2 separate regions of the Homo sapiens genome follow, and region 2 is linked to region 1. Evidence: fine-mapped expression QTL. A gene starts in region 1. The other region holds a variant in brackets. All regions are shown on one strand. Distances are from middle to middle.

Region 1 (11,577 bases):
TTAGAGGTTCCTCAAATTTTTGGGTTTGTCAGAATCAACTGGCTTATTTGTTAAGAATGTTAACTCCCAGACCTACCCCAACCCATCAGATTGGAATCCCTGGCTGTGGCATTTCTGACAAACTTCCCAGGACACTCTCATGCAGGTGGTGTGGAGAATTGTTTTGAGACACACTTGCTGAGACCCGTCACAGGCACCCTCAGCTGTGCTGCACTAAGCTCTCAGATCACAGGCTTGGAGACTTCATGAAGTCCGTGGCAGCCAAAAAAAAAAAAAAAAAAAGGCTTCATCAGGAACTGCCTAGGAAGAAAGAAGCCAAAATATTTTGACGCCAAATTAGAGTGAGTCTGAAACTGCCAAATCCTGAAAATGTCCTAAATAAGGGGCTTGGAAGTTATGTTTCTTATTTCTCTTCATCTAGTGGTTAACTTTTTTTTGAACATTCAATCATTTATTCAACTCACATGTCATATAAACGGCTAAGGCCATTTATCACTGGACAAACTGATGAGTTTGGTGAGGGTGGTCCTGATTAACATTTTATTACATTATAAAAGGGGTCAGTTTAAGGTTAGGCAAAGGAAATTTCATGTCATTAGAGAAGCAAAGTAGCAGAATCATTTCCTATGATTCTTGTGTTAATCAGAAATTCTATCTTTCTAAAATTCCTAGTGGAAATTCCAAATATCTTAGCAATAACTTCTAATATGACTTTAAAAATCTATGTTCTCTAGTTCTAGTGTCTAAATGACTTCCAATGCCTACAGTAATTCTTTAGTCATGTAGGAAACTGGTGACACTTTTAAAAACTCTTTTAGCAGAGAAGTTTAGTGAGCTGTTTAGTCATCCCATGCTTGGATGGGGCGAGGCAGGCTGCTAGGAGGGGTGGTGGAGTTTTCCTAAGGAAGAATGTTGAAACTCAGTCATCATGGTTTGCTGTGAATTAAGTGAATGAGAAACTAGACCATCTTGCAGAATGTGAGAGGAATGGAGGAATGCGTGAGACCTGAGAGAGCCACTGGTTTATTTTCTCTCATGGTTTAATTTGTCTTATAGAGTAAGTAATAATGTTTTACACCTGTACAGTAATTTAGTTGGCATCATGTTTTTAATCCACATTCTCCTTTGATCTCAACATCTCTTTGAGAAAGGGAAGGCATTTCTCTCCCTTATATTTTATTAAAAGAAAATGACTTAATGTTAATGAGGAGGCTGGTTGGTGCCTTACCCATAGCTGATTATGAAACTGGGATGCCAACCTACGTCTTCTGGTCCTGAGTTCAGAGCTACTTTTGCTACTCACATTGCTTCTCATGTCAGGGTGGCACATGGTGCTTCTGGATGTGGGTTCATATTTGCAGCTAGAGGGATGCTGTGTGAAACAGGAATCTCTTGCTGATGGAGTCCGAGATTCAGAACCTGATTTGAGAAGGAGCTAGCTGTTAGAAAGAAAAGCTTGCCTTGATGCCCCACATTAGAAACTGCCAGAACTGGGGGCAAAGAGGAGAAGAAGGCACCTCAGTGAGTAAGAGCTCTTCATGTTTCCAAGCCAGACTTCCTGGCTCTAAAAAAGTTCCTAGCAGCGTGAACCCAAAGTTGAAGTTTCTAGATTTGAACAGGGTTAAAAAACAACCTGACTCTGTGGCTGCTTCCTCAGAGGCTCCATTGGAGTAAAAATCTGGATATAGTGCCAAGTTCTCTGAGAGGTGCCCAGACATTCTGGGTTTGTAGCAGACACTGCGGGTGTCCTGTCCTTATCTTCTTGCAGTCACTCACACACCCTCACACTCAGGGCTCCTGCAGAGCTCTGTGTGATGGCACCCCAGCTGCCTACGAGGTTGACCTGCTCATCAAGACAAATCAGAGAGCCCCCATATGGGCAAGAAGCCTAATTAAAGCAGATGCATTTCACTTTGCTCTTCTAAGCAGGTGTAGTTTTTGAAAATTGCCTGTAAATCATATATTGGTACATTCAATTCCACTTTGCTATTAAAATTGTCTTTATTAAAAATAGAAACTTAAAGAATTAGAGAGATTTCTTTTGGGAAAATATTTGCTCCAAGACATAAGATCACATTTAAAGAATGAAGCCAATCTTCAGAAATCAGACGCTTGATAATAATAGTCACGATGGTTTCATATCTGTTGCCCTGTTTGGCCCTCTTATTATTGAGGTACTGAGGAGAAAGGAGAGGTCTAAGGTATGTGGCATGTGACTTGCCTAAGATCACATATCTTGGCAGTGGTAAAGCTGTTTCTAGGCAAACTGTACTCAGGGCAGGAGGCTCTGGGAAGATTCCTCAGGCCCTGGGCTTTGACAGCTGACCTGTGACTGCCGTGAATCCCAGCCAGTTTGGCAGAAGTATTTCACCAAGTTCTATTGGCTATGAGGGGCTCCCATGAACTTTCCAGGGTGGATGTGATATTGCCAAGCCCAAGGTCAACAGGACAAATTTGGTTAGCTGTGAAGGAACTGCCGCAATGGGACTACAGTCTTTGCTCAGGCTCCATCCAATCCTCGATGTCTCTTGGATTGGATGTGCTGTTTCTTGACACCTCTACCTCATTCCCACAAGTAAACACATTCTGCAGCTTAACCTAGCCTGCCCTAGAATCTGGGCCTCACTTTGCTTCTCCTGGTGGAAAGAGAAAGAAAGGGAACACATTGATGCCCGTTTAACTTACTATCATCTGAAGATGATTCTGGGAAACAGTTGGTTCCTTTTATGTGTTTATTAAGTATTAAGCTCCTGCTGTGGGCTAGACCTTGCAGTAGGCACATGCAAAATTGCTATCAGCTAGTGTCAAAGCAGGAAGACTTTCAGATGGTATCAAAAACCACAACCAAAACTAACCTAAAAACCAAATCACCTAAAATCTGCATGTAAATGTCTCCACTTGCTCCTCCAAACTTTATGCCCTCAAGTCTGCCTTTGTAATTCAATTTAAACCAGACTTCTCTGGTAGAGCTGGTTTGTTAGGAAGGCACAGTAAGTACGGTATAATTCGCTTTACCATAAACCACCTTCTGAGAGTCTGGGATCTGCCCAGAGCCTTTCCACTGGACTACTTTTACCTATCCAGAAAAAAATCCTTGTTATTTGGTTAGAAGCAATCATAATGTACAAAATAAACACAAAATATTAATGCACATTACCAAAGCTTATTTTCCTAACACAATACCAGCTTTAAGAAAAAAATCAAAGTGGCATTTTAAGTATACAGGGTATACTGGGTTAAATAGATATTTGGTTTTATCATTTCTCTGCCCCCATTGCAAAACACCATATGCTGCAACATTTGGATCCACAGATGGTATGGTTTGACCCACCTTAGTTTGAACTTACATTTTAGGAGTTGTGAAAATCTTGTGCAATTCCTCTTGCCCTTTCTCACTCTGACTTGACAACTGATATACAGGCAGAGCAAGATGAGAGATGTTCCAGTCCCCAGCACAAAGCAAGTGAAATGGGTGGACCTCATGCACTCACTATCAACAGCTCTGCCATCATCTTATTGCTTTTTAATGCAGCTTAGAGTTGGCTCCTTGGTTGCTCGTGCTCCCATTTCCTAACCCTTTGTGGTCATTGCTAACTTTCCTAATGGAATTCATTGATCTGGGCTCAAGGCTCTGGGGAAGACAGAAATCACTAGATAAAAATCTTACAGGGATTGTGTTGGGACAAATGGTTTTTGTTGGGTCTTGGAGGGATTGAAGGTTCCCCTAAAATGAGTTGTTAGGCACTGTGTATTGAGATAGTTCCACCACTGGTGAACTCTATTGGGCATATTTTCTGCACTTACCTGTGCATTGTAGTTTGGTTTACTATTTGGATTTGGTACTCTCAACTTACATTTGTTTAGTTGTCATTTACTGAAGGTATTATCAATTTGGTTTCCCTTTATCTTCCATAGTGGAAGAGTTTCATGTCTTTATGTGCTATTCAGGAGGACGAAATCCACTCCATTCCTTCTGTATTACATCTAGTATAGCTTACCATGTCACCCACCTTGGGCACCTGTTTGGCACCTGTATGTATTTGATTTTACAATCCTTAATCCAGTCTCCAGAGCTTGTTGGTCTCAGGGCTGGAGTCCTGGCTTCACCATTTGCTAACTGTGTGATGATGGACAAGTTACTTACCCTCTCTAGGCCTCAGTTTTCTCATATCTAAGATGGGGATAAGAATAGCACCTAGCTCTTGAGGTTGTTTTGAAAGTTAAATGTGGTAATCTACATAAACTGCTTAGCATGGCATCTGGCACACAGTCAGATCTCTGTAAAGGTTAGATATTATTATTAACCACTATTCCAGTTAACTACTCCTCAGAAAGTGGTGTTCAGTAACAAGGGACATTTTCTAGGGTCAGCCTAAATTGCGACCTAGGCCATTGGAACTATTGGCCATGAAAGCACAATTATGTATTGTAATAGGCAATAGAATATGTGGCTCTGACATTAGACTAACATCCATCCCTTCAATATAGGGACCTTAGGCAAATTAACCTCTTTCTTACTCAGTTTCTTCTTTTAAAAAATAAGCATGATAATAGCAGCCACTTCATAATATTGTGATGAGGTGCAAATGAGTTAATGCATGTAAAGTGTTTAAGCTATTAACTCAACAAATATTACCCATTACTGAAAACATCAGAGTGTGCCACCTGCTAAGTAAGTGCTTCTGGGGAGATAGAGTATTTCAAATTGGATTGTCATGAAAAATTTGGAAAATTTGAAAGCTAAAACTCTTGCTTTCATTTCCTACTGCCTCAATTCTCTGTATTCTGAATTTACTCCCTGTGTCCCCCTAAAATTGCATTTGCAAAAGCCGATCTTCAAGTTACATCCAATGCCCGCTCTGCCTCATCTTCTATGGGAAACAAGAATTTTAGAGGTCAGGTAGCCTAACACCATCAATTCTCAAAAGAGGAAGCTGAGGCCAAGAGAAGTCCTGTGAATTTCTTACAGCTCATTTGTGACAGACCAAGAATTACCCACTTTACTGGGTTGTTATTTACTAAGTGACAGTGAGTCTATATCTCTTTTGACAAGTGAGGTGGGGGCATGGAATTCGGCATGTGGTTGGTGTAAGAACTCCCCTCTCTCCTCTTTAACCTTACTTAATAAGACCCTGGCACAGTTGATATTTTAAGAGGGCTACTCTGTTTTCCCAGAGGGACCTAGGCACGGTAACCCTCTTAGCATGCAGACCTTGTTTCCTGAGGGGTAATGTTTCCCTTCCCTGTGACTTGTTTCTTGGGGGCTGTGTTCTGATTTTCCTGCTGAGCCACTTGTTGCCTTGGGCTGGCTGCCGCGCTTGGCAGTTTTTAGTGAGGGCTCTGATAGATGCCAGGAGGTGAGGGGAAGGGCTCTGGGTGGACTCCGTCATTGGACAAGCAGACTTAGTGATGGATGAGCCTTCCCCTGAGGAAGTTTTGGATCAGAAGTCCAACTGATAAGTTTTTCCAGAATTGAGTAACCCAGAAGCAGTGCCGAAAGGATCTTACCTCTCTTGTGGCTTTTTGTATTGATTTTAAAAGAAATTCTCAGAGGCAGTTCCACATTGTACTGGAAGCACAGCTATATCCACAATAGGCTTAGATATATGTAACATGAATTGCTTTAGAAATAACATTTGAGGAGAGGGGTGAGAGGAAGGAAGAGAGGGTCTTAAAAAATAGCCCTATCAAAATATTTTCTTTCTTCTAAGTATTGAAAAGACACAATATAACCCTTTCTTCTTTCAAATGATCTCATAGCTATTTGTTGAGGGGAAATACCAAATGTTTATTATTTTTTTTGAAGAAGCTTCTTCGGTCCTGATGATTCATGTTGATATCATTTTCCTCCTGACTACAGAGGCTCTGAGACAAAGCTACACCTCAAGTGATATGCCAGGGTCAGAACAATTCCCGTCCTGAAGGAGGGTGTGCAACCTTCTTTATCCCTCCTTCACAGACGTCCTTGAGCCCTTGAGACGGATGTGAGTGAGTTTTTCAGTCCTCATGCAAAACAACCATCTAAACATAACAGATGACATCAGCTTGGGCTTTTCAATTCCTGGATGGCAGCAGCGTGTTAATCCAGCCTTCATCCTGGATTTCATAAACCAAAACAAGAGAGCCTGGCAGGAGGACAGCGCTGCTGCTGGGTTGAGGAAATTGATGACGGGAAAGCATGCGGGCAACCCAGTGTATAAAACTCATAAACGTGTAGGCAGAGGCTCAGCTACCAGTTTGGACGGCTGCTTCCCACCAGCAAAGACCACGACTGGAGAGCCGAGCCGGAGGCAGCTGGGAAACATGAAGAGCGTCTTGCTGCTGACCACGCTCCTCGTGCCTGCACACCTGGTGGCCGCCTGGAGCAATAATTATGCGGTGGACTGCCCTCAACACTGTGACAGCAGTGAGTGCAAAAGCAGCCCGCGCTGCAAGAGGACAGTGCTCGACGACTGTGGCTGCTGCCGAGTGTGCGCTGCAGGGCGGGGAGAAACTTGCTACCGCACAGTCTCAGGCATGGATGGCATGAAGTGTGGCCCGGGGCTGAGGTGTCAGCCTTCTAATGGGGAGGATCCTTTTGGTGAAGAGTTTGGTATCTGCAAAGGTAAAGAGTGACCCCTTACCTCTCCCCTCCCGGGGCATGCTGAGAGCTTTTAGCCAGCTTGGGAGGTGAGGTGGCTTTGCTCCTCAAGAGTAAGAGGGAAAAGGCAGGTGGATTCTTGACAAGGCACCACACAGGTATTGTCATGGGTAGAGACTGAAGGATAGCTCCAAGTAGCAACTGAAACCAGTGTGCAGGAAGGCACAGAAAGAAGTGTGGCATTTTACTCGTTGCCTTAGGAGATCGCAAAAAGAAAGCTGCAATGGAAGATTGTGTTGGCTCCTTTTCTGGAAAACTTTAGAAACTTGACAGGTAATCTGTTAAGGATGGCTTAGGTGCTCTCTCCTCTGCGAGGCAGCGATTACAAAGGTCTGCACTAGATAACCTCTTGGAATGGTTTCTAGCCCCCAGATTTAGTGATTCTTTGATCTTGAAAGGGTCCACAGGATGGAGGGCCACTCTCAAGATCAAATATTTCTGATAAACACAAATGCACTTTATGGAATAGAGTGAGCTTAAGTCATCTAACAAAATAACTCACTCTTCAAAGAGGGTCCCCTGAAGCATAAAACAAACCTCATCTGACTTTATAAAGGTTTTGGTCATCTGGAAAAATAGCAGATGGTGTTAAGACAAGGAAAAATAACAATAGAGAAAAATAAAAACTGGAAGTCTGTAAAGAATGAGGTTGACCACTTGTACACTTAAAGAAAAACTTCGTCGGTTGAAATTTTAGCTAAATAATGTAGTTAAGCATTTGTAGAATTTATTTTAAACATAGTAACTAGTTTAAAATATTTAACATTTTAAAAATGTTTAGAATAAAAAGAATGATGATTTAAAAATACTCTACGTATAGATATCTCATGATCTTATTATGAAGAGCTATTATTAAGAAGCAACACATGCTATAACCCCATCCATCAGTTGTGTAATACCAGGAAGCTTTCAAAATTATAAAAAGGACTGAGAAATTTCTAAATAATTATTATGTTTTATGTATTTAATACATTTTTTATGAATAATATTTATCCAGTATTGTGCTAATCTCATTAATTCTCCTACTTCTTAGACATATAATGTATAAATTAATCATCTTTTAATTTGCAAGACATACAAAATTAAAAAAACAAATTCTTAAAGTATTAGGAGAGTTTTATTTTTTGCTTAGTTTATTTTTGTTTATATACAATAAGAAATAGAATATTGAGAAAATATTTTGTTTGGTGAACACATATGCATGTTTCTTTCAACTGAATAGGATCTGTATATTTTGTAAATTATGGGGCTTATTGACCAAGAAAACAGTACTTCACATAAGGAAATTAGGGAGGAAGTGGTTAACACAATCATACTTATGATATAGCATGTATATGCAGTGGATTGCTTTTTCTCTTGGCATAATATGCCTTTGTACATGTGATTGTAAATGTACATTACATATGGGCAAAGAAACAAGCTGTGTGGCATCTGGAGTCTTTAGCACTGTAGTATTCTACTGAATGATCAAGATACTAAAAAGATCTTTAAGATTGCTTCTTTTGGCTTTCTTCAGGTTGCTGATGAATCTAGTTTTAAGCATTTTTCTCTCTGCTGGAAATAGGAGACTTTGTGAGCCTTAGCAACTCGAGATAGAGATAATACATTTGGCAATCATCTCCCTTCTTCAGCTTTTTAAAAGAACATCCACGTGAAAACTGTAAACTTCAGCTGCGTATCCAAATGTCTTCTAAATATTCAGATGTCTGTGAACATCTTGCCCAGATTAACAATCAGCAGCCAACACATATTTAATGAACACTTACTATCTGCCCAGCACTGTTCAGTACATCAGGGGATACACTAGAAGTATCTCTGGGAATTTGGCTAAAGTTTTAGTTTTCAATATCGCTGCAGGCACAGTCAAATCCTAATCCTGTGTGCTTTTCTGGAACAGGCCTTTGCAGGATCCCTTTTTAAGATCTCTTCTTCCCAGCAAAGAGAACAGTGTTCAAAACCAGGTTCCTCTGTGATCTGAACCATATTGAAAAGAGCACTCATAGATCTCTTTAAAAAAAGATAGCTCATTGATGATCTACTTGGTCAGTTAGTGGAGTATTAGACTGCTAGAGACTCAGATGGCTCACAATTTGTTCTTTACCCACCTGTGATTGTACATTTACAAGGTATTTTCACAACAAGAGAATATTCTATATCTATTCTGCTGGCTTTTAAAGGTTGGTTAGTCTACTGAGATGCTGTTTATCCTAAAAACAGCATTTTAAATAATTTTATGCATTTTAAATAAACGACTTTGTCCTCTTTATTTCAATGTAGGATGTTTTGGCATAAGTGTAAGCACTGGAGGTCTAAAAGCTTCTAGTTCTTGGTAGGTGTACAAACCCTCAGGGTGTATAAGCCCTGAGCTTTCTTGCTCATTTAGCATCTTGCATGTTAGCCTTGCAGAGGATTTTACTAGGGAGCCCTCTTAACTACTGAGGGAGTCAGGCAAGTTGTATGACATGCCGTTTCGACAAATAAGGAACTTGATAAGGGTTGGAGCAGATGGAAGATTGATTGCTTCATGGTGAGCTAGGATGATAGCTCTCTCCCTGGTTAGTTTGAAGCCCTTTCCTATACACTTAAAATAGTAAATTATCTGTGAATACAGTAGATTCAAAGATAGCATCACATTTTAAAAACTCTTTGAGGAGCTGATGCATATATGTCTGTTCAATTTCCCACCTTTGCTGAGCTGTTACAGAGGTCATCTGTGAGAATTTATTGGTATCTAAGCAGAACATCACCAGAATGAAGACTGGTCCAAGGAGACTGGCTGTGTGTAGCTGTCTTCAACTTAACTTTACATCACAACACTAAGCCCGAGGCATCCATTATCTGTTCTTAATGTGTGATTTCATATTTATGACTCAAAGTTTCAACTTTCAAATCCTGGGTTTGGAGAATTGGATTTTACTTTACAGTCAAGGTTCATGAGGTTGGTTCAAATCGCAAGGCTATGCACCCAGGGCTGTTAGGATGGAGACGTATTTACAACAAGCAGCGTCCTCTCCAACCTTTCCTTTGTCCCCAGACTGTCCCTACGGCACCTTCGGGATGGATTGCAGAGAGACCTGCAACTGCCAGTCAGGCATCTGTGACAGGGGGACGGGAAAATGCCTGAAATTCCCCTTCTTCCAATATTCAGTAACCAAGTCTTCCAACAGATTTGTTTCTCTCACGGGTAAGCACTGATTCTGGTATAAGCATTGGAAGAATAGTCTCATTTCAGTGTGAATAACTTAGAAAATATCTGTGAGTAGAATAAGATGTGGATTGGAATGATTTTATTTCCTTTGCTTTACTCAGGGGAACGGTGGGTGGTAGCTGAGTTTGGTTGCTGTTGCTGTTTTCTAAAAAGAGCCCATCAATAATTTTGAGGTTTACATATAATTTCTCATAAAGTTTACCTGGTTTAAATATGATTTATAGGAGGATAAATATGATTGATTACCAAAAATCTGTAATAAAAAATAACCAACTGAGATACACAAAGTTCTTTAAATTCTTCAGTGATCTGTTTTATATATTTACTAGACAAAACTATTTATCTCCCAACTTCACATAGAAAAAGTACTGTGAGGAATTTATTGGATAAGCTTTAAGAGTCAAGATAGAAAATATAGAACGTTTCTTTTTTTTAACCAAATGAAAGCATTTAAGTGTAATAATTCCAAGTGTGTGTTTTTATGGATTTTGGAGAGGATAAGAAATAGTATGTGATTGAAATTTTGGAAATGAATGAAACTGTAGTAATACGTGCTGCTTGTTAGTCCGTGTGTATTTCTTATACAGGTGTTAGAATGTGAGGAATACACAACCTATGAGATGGTGCTATGTACATATTTGTTTATTTTGTTGAATAGCTGGCCAGTACAGGAGAGTTCCATTAAACTGAAAGTAGCTCATTTAAAGCAACATACATCACTAAAGCTTAGGCCTCCATTGCACAGAATGGCGATTGTAGTTAATAATTCTTATATATTTCAAAATTGGTAAAATAATAAATTTTAAATGTTCCCATCACAAAAAATAAGTATATGAGGTGATGGATATGCTACTTAGTTTGAGTTCATCATTCCACAGTGGAGATATATATCAAAGTATCATATTGTACCCTAAATGTATACAATTATTATTTGTCAATTAAAAACTGTATTTAAAATTATAAAAAATAAATAAATAATAAGCCCAACATATAGTCACAGAGATGGCTAGTATCAACAAATGATATACTTTTTCCCACCACAACTATAAATAACAATTCAAGTCCATTTTATTTAGTTTTTGCTTTTGGTCTTTTGCATTTCAAGTTAATAAAATATAAACTATTTGGCAAAGGTGCTTGTTTTCTAATTTTACCTCCTTCTTATGTATGGGTCAACTAAACACATTAAAATGAAGCGGAAATATCGTGCTTTTAAGTGAATTATTAGTTTTAAGTATGGTGATGCCCATAACAATACTTACATTATAGGTTACACAAAAATATTTCCACATCAAAGTTAGGCATTGAGATTCTTATCAGAAATATTTGAAAAAAGCAGTCAGTTTCTCTCTTTTCTGACCTAGGGTATTTCCTTTCATTAGCTAAAGGTGCAACCAGCAAAAGATGATTTTTAGTGTGATCTTGGTAAACCTTAGTCAGGTTCAGGATGGAGAGCAGAAAACCCTAAGGACCTCTTGGGGAGGCTGCCTAGGGTTCTTTGTAGTCTACATGTGTCTTTGAGACTACATGAGACTTCCAGGTTCATGCACTGGAGTTTACAGGAGAAGGCTTGGGCTTCACTCCTGACACAGGCTTCACATCACCTCTGCACAAACCTGTTTGGGCCCAGCCTTTGAGAGCAGGCTAAATGGCTGCAAGCTTCACCAGCACTAGGACCCCCAGAGCACGAGCTTGTCTTCTCCAACTTTCCACCTGCTGGCTACAGCAC
Region 2 (11,577 bases), 35 kb before region 1:
AGTGTCCTGTAGAGGAAATTTGATCTACATATTTTGCAGTTCTTTATACCCCAGCCATTTAAAATGATATTTAGCAATAGTTTGTTTTAAGAAAAAAAAAACAAAACACAAAAAACTCCAAGACCTCTCTCCAGTCTTTTGTCAATAATCTCTTTCCCCAATTTGGGAATCCGCTTCTCGTGAGTTAAATCCACTTGACAAAATTTAAAATTCAACTTAGTGATATTATTTAATTTCCTATAACACTTTATGGCTAGTGAAGCACTTTTTCATACACCATGTTTCAGGCCTAGCCAAAGAAAGAAAGAAAGAAAGAAAGATCTTTCAGTGTATTTCTTTCTTTCCATCCAAAGTTTGTTGAACATTTAGAAGTCAAGCTCTGTGTCTGGGGAGGTTATAGACCATTTGAATGTGTATTATGAGCATATTTGAAGATGTGCATATTTTGCATCAAATGAACATTCGCTGACAGTTCCCCACTCTGTCTCTCTGATCTCGAGGGGGCAAATGCCCTGGAGAAGAGAGAAGTGATGGGGATGAGAGTGTGATTTCTATGAGGGCAAGAACCCTGTGTAAATGAAGTAACCATATTAAATTGGAAATCAGTGGCTTGCTATTTAGAGATAGCAGAAGATCTCCCAGTTTGCAGGCTTCAAAACTTCCAATTTGTGATCAAACAGTTCCATTTAAATGGGGTAATCAGACAAAACCCCCAAAGCATAGAAAAGCAAATCAATTCAATTGTTCTGTTTAGATATAGACAATGCCTGGAGAGCAAACCATTACAGCTAAGAGAGATCTTTAAGTGAAAGAAAAGGAGAAGGCTCCATTTCAGCTTATTAGGTAAGAAACATAAGGAAACATATATACAAACAAAAAACAAAACCAAAAACCCAAGCAAACAAACAAAACAACAAATACCAAATTAGTTTTCTACTGGCATTTCCTTTTGTGATGGTTGCAGCATCCCAAGAGGGGTTTTGTGCTTTATTAGCTGAAGTAAGAGAATCCTAGGCTGAAATGGACTTTGGAAGGTTTTACTCTGTCTTCAGAAAAGCTTTCATTCTAAGTATCCTAGAAAATAACTCTCTCATTATCTTTCTCTTTCTAGAAGTCATCAATAACTTGTTTTTTTCCACCTAGGAAAGTTGTAAGTGGTGAGTAGCTACTGTTAGGTAGCTACTGTTAGGAGTGGCAAAGTAGGCTTCTCATGCGTATAATACTAATGATAATAGCTGCAATTTTTTTGTGCTTACTAAATGTGCCAAGCATGCTAAAATACTTAAACAGATACTATTTAATTCTCAAAACCCACAAAGCAGGTATGATATGATTATTACCCCTTTGTAAAATGGGGAAGCTCAGAGCACAGAGCAAGCTCAGGTTGTCTGATTTCCTTTTGAGCAGTGTGATCTAACAAGGTCAAGAGTACTGCTGCTTCAAGTATTACTGTTGCTGTGTTCCCTGCATTATACAGAGGACTTGAATTTGTCTAATGTCTTGCCTGGGAAAAGCAGCTCAGTTCTCTCTGAAAAGGAAAACCCAAGACAGAAAGCGTGGATGTGGAAGAAGGTAAATAAACGCCACCAGTTGGTCAGTAACCACAGAAGCTAACAGTAGATCAAATTCTCATTCAGGAGAGGTAAGCTTCTCTTGTACCTATAATAACTTTCAGAAAAAACACATGTCTGGAAAAGTGTGGAGGACTCACCGATATTGGCAGTGGGCTGCTGTCAGCACCCACTGTGGATCAATCAGAACACCTCCACAAACGTGATGTCCGCCATACTGGATGGAGGCCATAAATGGCCTGGAATGAGGTGACACTTCTTTCCCTCCAATAATTTCCATATTGAAACCTACAAAAGTAGACCAAAAGGTTTCACACAAAAGATCTAAACTACTGTTTCATGTAATTCTTCCAATGACAGTCACTATATTATTTTCAAAGCTTAAAAAACAACAATAACCCTACCTAAAAGCTACAATAATTTTACTGATGAAAAATTTGTATAATACATTACAGTTCAGAAAGATAGGAATGATTGTGAAAATAATTTTCATCTATAATATAACAATATAGTCAGTAGAAATTCATTTAATGTTTACATGTAGATATAGGAGATACTTACACACATGAGTCATATAAGCCCCAACTATTAGGAAAAACAGAGAAAAGGAAGAAAACTTAGTCATTTTAAAGATTTAGATTTAAGAAGCCCAGATGAAATGTGTTGATCCTGTGATGAAGGAAGAAGATTCTGAAGACTGAGTTTTGTTCTTGTAAGTTTTGACTTTCTCACCACAGGTGCTCTAGGGGTAAGATTTTTTTTCACACCTAGGTGTAAACGTTATGTATCAGTTTGGGGACTTTCAGGTCTGTGCTTTTAGCACTTTTTTGTTTTGTTTTGTTTTGAGACGGAGTCTCTCTCTGTCGCCCAGGCTGGAGTGCAGTGGCGCGATCTCGGCTCACTGCAAGCTCTGCCTCCTGGGTTCACGCCATTCTCCTGCCTCAGCCTCCCGAGTAGCTGGGACTACAGGCGCCCACCACCACATCCGGCTAATTGCTTTTAGCACTTTTTTGGGAGAGGTATGTATGCCATAAAGAACTCATATCTGGAGATACCATCTCTAATACCTGTATCAGAGTACTTATGCTATAAAGAAAATTTATACTATATGTGTATATAATATTTATAAATGAAAAATATCCATGCCATAAGAATGTAATGAAGTTGCAGACAGAGTTCAAAGATGTCCATTGCTCTCAAGCAATACTTACTATTTTTCCTGGCACAAAATGGTGCCTATCATATTTCATTCTTCTCTCTTTTTCATTTGGACATAGATTTATGATGAAGAGAGACATGGACCTTGCACAGATTATGGTTACTTCACAATGTGGCTTAGCTAAAGCCTGAGCACCAACCAGAGAAAACCATATGTTTTGCAGCAAACATCCCTACTCATGTCGTTTCTCTAAGTTTGCCCAAATTTGGTTAAATTTTAGTTACATTTTTGTGAGATTTCATAATGTTGTTAAAGGTGAACATTGGCAACTATTTTTGATTCAGAGTCTCTCTTTTACTCATTTTTAATTGAAAATGGCCATGTGTTTTTCCAGGGACTTAATAATAATGTCTTTTAAAAATAAAGGACTGCATTTTGTAATTCTTCCCAGGAACAGATGACAATGCATTGCCAGGCCTTCAATACAAAAGGTATTAGACTCAAGATTCTACAAGATTCTGTTTGTGCCAGACACTGATCAGCAGTGCAAATATAAAATGAATACAAACAGATCACGCATCAGAATGCCAATCACTTCCTAGTAACACTGATCAAAATTTGCATTAAATCAACAGATCTTTCTTTTAAGAGGTATGCATTTTATCTTCCATTCATTTTAGAAAGGAGAATTAAAATCCAGAGCTATTATGCTCGGCAGATTGCAAGAGACTCCTTTCAAATTGTTTTCTAGCACAAAGAGTAGGAATAATAAAAAATAATACTATAATTATGTATTATTCATTATAACTTAATAATATATAAGTAAAATACCTTATTTCCAAAATTCTTTTTATATGATCATTTATGGTTTCATGTCTATGTCTTTGAGGAAAGCAGGACAACTTATGTTACAATGGAAGAAATAAGTTCCAAGAGGCTAAGTAATTTGCCCAAGGCAACACAGCTTATGACCTAGACCAAATCACCTGCCTGACCTCCCTGTATGTTAAGTTGTATGTGAATGAGTACCCTCCCAGAACACAGAATTTTATAAAAAACCTGCTTTCCTTGTACAGGTGTGTGGCAACAGTAAAGCTTTCTACATGTTAAACAGAATGAACAAAACCAACGCAGAGCAGTGACTTCCTGTCAGAGCAGAAGGTGAGATAAGGAGGAGCCAGATTAAGAAAAGCCACAAGCTTAATAAACCAAACTTATTACTCCCACTCAAATGTCCCTGTGAATTTTCAAGTCATCTTTGTCACTGTTGATGTACCTTGGATGCTCTACTGTGTGCCATTGTTCCACATTGGAAGGCAGACAGGATGGCGTCAGTTCCCTGCTACATCCCAGTGATGCTGGGATCGTAAGGAAGATGGTGTGTGACAGGTAGAAGTGATCCAAACTCTAAGGAAGAAATAAATTGTAAAGGACGAAGCTTTGTGTGTGTGTGTGTGTGTGTGTGTGGCGGGGGAAATGGGAATGGTTACAAACATCTCTCAGCTGCTTATTTCTGAGTAGTAAGGATTAATGTCCACATAGCGTTGTACAAATTGCTGAACGTTTTTAGCTGTATTTCCAGGGAAGTGGTTGTCATTAGTCTTGTTTTATGGATAAATAAACTGAAATTCAGGGACTTGCTTGAGATTACCGAGCTAGCAGGTGGCCCTTAAGCTCCTATGTGCTGGCTCCCGGCTCTATGTTCCTTTCAACCTGGCTACATGCCTGCCTCCTTTGAGAAGTCCCTGGGGGTTTAGGGGCTCTGAGACACAAGCTAGCTGTGCAGAAGAGAAAAAGGATTTAGCCATACACACTGCGTGTAATTAGACATGGGTGAGATTTAGTTCAGTTGGGAAGAGTCTCATAACTCTTTCTTGTAGCTGACCTAGAAAATTCTGAGAATCATGTTGGTTAATAGTAATGAGTTATTTGGTTTTGGCTTTAGACCGATTTGCCAGTTAATAGTATCATTTGTTATTATATTCACGATTCTGGATTTGAGAACAGTGGGCTGTGTAACATGATGAGCTCGGCGATCTAATTTATTTCTGGGTGTTGGTTTTTGTTCTGTTGAGTCTGCTGCAGGGAGGGCCATGTTTGCTTTGGATGGCTTTACAGCAACTGTACCGGACTGAGCAAGTGCAAGGCTGTGCTCAGAGGAGGGCTGGCTTCACACGTCATAGCCTTGTGGCTCTTCTTTGCTGTGTTTAGCTGTCTTTCTTGCTGCTCTTAGAGATGTTTTGTTTCTGCTTCTCCTGTGTTTCAGGAGACCCTTATAGAACAGCTGTGCCACTGCTCCAAAGGCCTCGTGTGGTTCTATCCCTTGGACTGCCTTTCTTCAACAGCCCAGACACCTGCTCTGTCAGATTTATAAGCCACACCCCCTAGAGCCATGCCAATCAAAGCATGGCCCGCAGACCTGTGCCAGTCTCCGAACCTCTTTGTTACCGATTTGGAGCAAGATGGGGACAGAAATTGAGAGCCAGAGTTTAGAAACTGTAACAG[C/T]GACTTAACATGGCACTGTATTAATTTATTTTATTAATGAAATAAAATTTGTCCAATCTAATAAAAATTGGGTGTGTATTTTGTATGCCTTTGTTTTTTATTTAATTACTTTTTTCTATTTATTTGTGTTGTATAAACGTATCAGTTCACAATGGGCTGAAACTAAAAACAAACAAATTAACAAACTAAAACTCCAAACACATTGGTCTTTCCCACAGGTAGTCTGAGAAACACTGCTCTGTAGACATAAGTGCAAAGCAGATTTGTTTCAAGCTCTTCCCATTTATTCCCTTTTACATTCCTTTGAAAAATGTTCTCAATATCAAGTTTTCCCAAGCTATCCAACCATCCCCAGCCCTTGGCACTTGACATCAGGATTTGGCAGAATTTCACTGGATCCCTCCCTTGTAGCCCACCACCCTTCAGGCCTTGACTTCTGTCCAGTAATGGCTTAGCTAATTTGGTAAATGTATCTGCTAACACCCATAGTGAAACTATGGCAGCTTTGAAAATTGGGCTTGGGAAGGATATTGGGGTGCTATATAATGATATTAAGTCCGAAGTTCTCAAGAAAATGTAAATCTCACCTCAGATTACAGCCATCCCTCCCACTAGGTCCTTAAAATGAATGAGCTTAAGGGCAGTTGGCAAGGAAAGCAAAGTACCCCTCAACTCAGAGCTGGGGCTGTAATAAGGGTTGGGGCACCTGGAATACTGCCTTTTCCTAAGCAACTTAAATGTAAATACTTCAGAGGGCTGCTCTAGGGCCTCTTCTTGGTGGAATGATGGTGGTGGCAAAGGTGAGATTGAGGGAAATTTGTTTTGTCTTCCTCTATCTCAACTTTAAATCAGAATATATTTTGCATGTTAAATCTTCCTTTCATAAATATGAAGATACGTTTTCTAAACCATCATTATTGAGTTAAGTCACACAATAGTACTTCAACTTCCTTTTCCTTTACTCCTCTCCACGTCAGCTATGAAGTGACTGGAATGGATGAGAATTGCCTTAAGTGCAGGATCCTCACATATGGAGTAATCAGGAAAATACCTTGAGGACTTGGCAAATAGGGATGTCCCAGCACTGCTGGTGCTGGCTGCCTGGTCATACACTGTCCCTATCTCAACTTTGTCTCCAGGCCTTACACTGCCCTTTTATGACTCCTTTTTCTTTTCTTCTTTAGAGCAGGCTTTGATGTTCATTTTAACTAAGTTCAAATGTTATGGGTGGGATGAGGAAAGTGCCACATGGGGTGGTCCCTGTGATGTCGCTGGACTCAAGACAGATCACTCACATTGTCCGCAATTACTTGTCCTGAAAGATTTGCACATGTGGAAATCCTTTCAACAGTAATGACTGCCAAAGGAAGGTTTTCAGCTCCAGGCTCGTAGGTACCCTTGCCTTGCACAGAGGAAGGTGAGGACTATATGAGCCTACCAGTATTATAGGGAGAAAACGGGTAAATATGTAGGCCAAGTTAAGGGAAAAATACCAGAGAAGGACCAGGTAATAAAGACCAGAGGAAAGGTGGAGGCAGGAAGGGAGGGAAGAAAATAAATACTGTTGAATAAAGAAGGAAAAATGATCAATTGAGGATGGGAGGCCTTATAATGGAACACTTCCATTTATATTTGAACATCTCAGATACACTACTGTGATACAGTACTGTGCCCCAAAGCCAAATATGTTATCATTGTTTTACAATAGAAACAGATACATTACAAGAAATAATCTCATCATGCTGAAAGCAATTAAATTGTTTAACTAGTCAGGATGATTTTACAAAATAAACGAAGTCACAGCAGGCAAAGTAGTAGGAATTTCAAAATGAACGACCACATTCATTAATGAGGGAAACACAGTAATTGCTATGGTCAAGCTGGAACACAGCAAGTGTTATCGATTGATTCAGTATTCACTAATTTTCCATTGAGAATCAATTCAAGTAGAAATCTAGATATGATATACTTTTTCCAAAAAGTGACCAAACAACACACACACATACACACACACACATACAACCTTCCCCTCCCACCCTTTTTTCTATTAGGAAATGAAATAATTATATACACTAAATGAGATGGTAAATTAAAAATAATGTTTAAGAGAGGAAGGCATAAAGGAAACTATCAATAAGTTAGAGCATAGAAGACTTTTGTAAGGTAGAAAATACCATAGGCAATATCCAAAGACATATGGCAAAATGCTTGTCACTTACATTGAAAGCATTTCCCCCCAAAGACAATATCTTTAATATATGAAGGGTCCTTATAAATAAATTTAACAATAAGTGGGCTCAATGTGAGCAAATCAATATGAAGACAAATAAAACAGTATTTTAGTTAAACTACCTCACTAGGGACCTGGTATATAAATGATATTTAGAAATAATTTTGATGACTATTACAGGATAAATAATGAAGCACATTTTACATTTTTGCAAGGCTTAATAAACATAAGTTTGATATGCTAAGAACACAACTGCTATAGCAAGTATTTGATAAAAAGGCTGCAGGCTGAGAAGAGATTATCAACAAAAGCATAATCTTCTAAATTTTTTTTTGAGAAGTTACCAAGTATCTTCTTTATTATTTTTAATTAATGAATGAATTAGTTTATAAATTTATACCACATTCAACTTATTCTACTAGGTATAAGCAAATCACATTGAGAATTACAAAAATTCCAGATGCATAGATCGTTCACAGACTATATATACTCCAGTAGGAAATATGAAGGACTTAAGTTGTTAACCATAATACCACATAAGGACAATATGAATGGGAATATTCAGTGCATTAGTTATGTTACAGAAATATGTGCAAATAAGTTTAAAATTAAGGCTTTGATGTAAATATTATAGAAAATACAATCATATATTTGAATTGCTAGTTACACTAGATAATCCCAAACTATATTCTTTTTTTTGTAATTTTTTTTATTATACTTTAAGTTCTAGGGTACATGTGCACAACATGCAGGTTTGTTACATATGTATACATGAGCCATGTTGGTGTGCTGCACCCATTAACTCGTCATTTACATTAGGTATATCTCCTAATGCTTTCCCTTCCCCCTCCCCCCACCGCACAACAGGCCCCTGTGTGTGATGTTCCCCTTCCTGTGTCCAAGTGTTCTCATTGTTCAATTCCCACCTATGAGTGAGAATATGCGGTGTTTGGTTTTCTGTCCTTGCAATAGTTTGCTGAGAATGATGGTTTCCAGCTTCATCCATGTCCCTACAAATGACCTGAACTCATCCTTTTTTTATGGCTGCATAGTATTCCATGGTGTATATGTGCCACATTTTCTTAATCCGGTCTATCATTGATGGACATTTGGGCTGGTTCCAAGTCTTTGCTATTGTGAATAGTGCCGCAATAAACATACGTGTGCATGTGTCTTTATAGCAGCATGATTTATAATCCTTTGTGTATATACGCAGTAATGGGATGGCTGGGTCAAATGGTATCTCTAATTTTAGATCCTTGGGGAATCGCCACACTGTCTTCCACAATGGTTGAACTAGTTTACAGTCCCACCAACAGTGCAAAAGTGTTCCTATTTCTCCACATCCTCTCCAGCACCTGTTGTTTCCTGACTTTCTAATGATCGCCATTCTAACTGGTGTGAGATGATATCTCATTGTGGTTTTGATTTGCATTTCTCTGATGGCCAGTGATGATAAGCATTTTTTCATGTGTCTTTTGGCTGCATAAATGTCTTCTTTTGAGAAGTGTCTGTTCATATCCTTTGCCCACTTTTTGATGGGGTTTTTTTTTCTTGTAAATTTGTTTGAGTTCATTGTAGATTCTGAATATTAGCCCTTTGTCAGATGAGTAGGTTGCAAAAATTTTCTCCCATTCTGTAGGTTGCCTGTTCACTCTGATGGTAGTTTCTTTTGCTGTGCAGCTCTTTAGTTTAATTAAATCCCATTTGTCAATTTTGGCTTTTGATGCCATTGCTTTTGGTGTTTTAGTCATGAAGTCCTTGCCCATGCCTATGTCCTGAATGGTATTGCCTAGGTTTTCTTCTAGAGTTTTCATGGTTTTAGGTCTAACATTTAAGTCTTTAATCCATCTTGAATTAATTTTTGTATAAGGTGTAAGGAAGGGATCCAGTTTCAGCTTTCTACATATGACTAGCCAGTTTTCCCAGCACCATTTATTAAACAGGGAATCCTTTCCCATTTCTTGTTTTTGTCACATTCATCAAAGATCAGATGGTTGTAGATGTGTCGTATTATTTCTGAGGCCTCTGTTCTGTCCCATTAGTCTTTATCTCTGTTTTGGTACCAGTACCATGCTGTTTTGGTTACTGTAGCCTTGTAGTATAGTTTGAAGTCAGGTAGCGTGATGCCTCCAGCTTTTTTTTTTTGGCTTAGGACCGTCTTGGCAATGCAGGCTCTTTTTTGGTTCCATATGAACTTTAAAGTAGTTTTTTCCAATTCTGTGAAGAAAGTCATTGGTAGCTTGATGGGGATGGCATTGAATCTATAAATTACCTTGGGCAGTATGGCCATTTTCACAATATTGATTCTTCCTATCCATGAGCATGGAATGTTCTTCCATTTGTTTGTATCCTCTTTTATTTCATTGAGCAGTGGTTTGTAGTTCTCCTTGAAGAGGTCCTTCACATCTGTTGTGAGTTGGATTCCTAGATATTTTATTCTCTTTGAAGCAATTGTGAATGGGAGTTCACTCATGATTTGACTCTCTATTTGTCTGTTATTGGTGTATAGGAACGCTTGTGACTTTTGCACATTGATTTTGTATCCTGAGACTTTGCTAACGTTGCTCATTAGCTTAAGGAGATTTTGGGCTGAGACAATGGGGTTTTCTAAATATGTAATCACGTCATCTGCAAACAGAGACAATTTGACTTCCTCTTTTCCTAATTGAATACCCTTTATTTCTTTCTCCTACCTGATTGCCCTGGGCAGAACTTCCAACACTATGTTGAATAGGAGTGGTGAGAGAGGGCATCCCTGTCTTGTGCCAGTTTTCAAAGGGAATTCTTCCAGTTTTTGTCCATTCAGTAAGATATTGGCTGTGGGTTTGTCATAAATAGCTCTTATTATTTTGAGATACGTCCCATGAATACGTAATTTATTGAGAGTTTTTAGCATGAATGGCTGTTGAATTTTGTCAAAGACCTTTTCTGCATCTATAGAGATAATCATGTGGTTTTTGTCTTTGGTTCTGTTTATATGCTGGATTATGTTTATTGATTTTTGTATGTTGAACCAGCCTTGCATCCCAGGGATGAAGCCCACTTAATCATGGTGGGTAAGCTTTTTGATGTGCTGCTGGAGTTGGTTTGTCAGTATTTTATTGAGGATTTTTGCATTGATGTTCATCAGAGATATTGGTCTAAAATTGTTTTTTTGTTGTGTCTCTGCCAGGCTTTGATATCAGGATGATGCTGGCCTCATAACATGAGTTAGGGAGGATTCCCTCTTTTTCTATTGATTGGAATAGTTTCAGAAGGAATGGTACCAGCTCCTCCTTGTACCTCTGGTAGAATTTGGCTGTGAATCCGTCTGGTCCTGAACTTTTTTTGATTGGTAAGCTATTAATTATTGCCTCAATTTCTGAACTTGTTATTGGTCTATTCAAGGATTCAACTTCTTCCTGATTTAGTCTTGTGAGGGTGTATGTGTCCAGGAATTTATCCATTTCTTCTAGATTTTATAGTTTATTTGCATAGAGGTGTTTATAGTAGTCTCTGATGGAAGTTTGTATTCCTGTGGGATCGGTGGTGATATCCCCTTTATCATTTTTTATTGCATCTATTTGATTCTTCTCTATTTTCTTCTTTATAAGTCTTGCTAGTGGTCTATCAATTTTGTTGATCTTTTCAAAAAACCAGCTCCTAGATTCATTGATTTCTTGAAGGGTTTTTTGTGTTTCTATCTCCTTCAGTTCTTCTCTGATCTTAGTTATTTCTTGCCTTCTGCTAGCTTCTGAACGTGTTTGCTCTTGCTTCTCTAGTTCTTTTAATTGTGATGCTAGGGTGTCAATTTTAGATCTTTCCTGCTTTCTCTTGTGGGCATTTAGTGCTATAAATTTCCCTCTACAAACTGATTTAAATGTGTCCCAGAGATTCTGATATGTTGTGTCTTCGTTCTCATTGGTTTGAAAGAACATCTTTATTTCTGCCTTCATTTCGTTATTTACCCAGTAGTCATTCAGGAGCAGGTTGTTCAGTTTCCATGTAGTTGTTTGGTTTTGAGTGAGTTTCTTAATCCTGAGTTCTAGTTTGGTTGCACTGTGGTCTGAAAGACAGTTTGTTATAATTTCTGTTCTTTTACATTTGTTGAGGCATGCTTTACTTCCAAC

Evidence for each region.
Region 2: its variant is fine-mapped to the expression of ESM1 in whole blood (TOPMed, PIP above 0.99). The same link has a PIP of 0.9 or more in blood mononuclear cells.

What each region holds. Positions count from the first base shown.
Region 1 is chr5:54,980,244-54,991,820 of GRCh38, reverse strand. ESM1 (endothelial cell specific molecule 1) reads left to right here and starts at 6,228. Exons shown (of 3, transcript NM_007036.5): 1 at 6,228-6,604; 2 at 9,675-9,824. The coding sequence starts at 6,304.
Region 2 is chr5:55,014,942-55,026,518 of GRCh38, reverse strand. GZMK (granzyme K) reads right to left here and starts at 2,263. Exons shown (of 5, transcript NM_002104.3): 1 at 2,133-2,263; 2 at 1,712-1,859. The coding sequence starts at 2,196. LOC102467081 (a long non-coding RNA gene) reads left to right here and starts at 2,350. Exons shown (of 3, transcript NR_104662.1): 1 at 2,350-2,590; 2 at 3,807-3,891; 3 at 4,997-5,220. The variant C/T (reference allele first, on the strand shown) is at 5,236.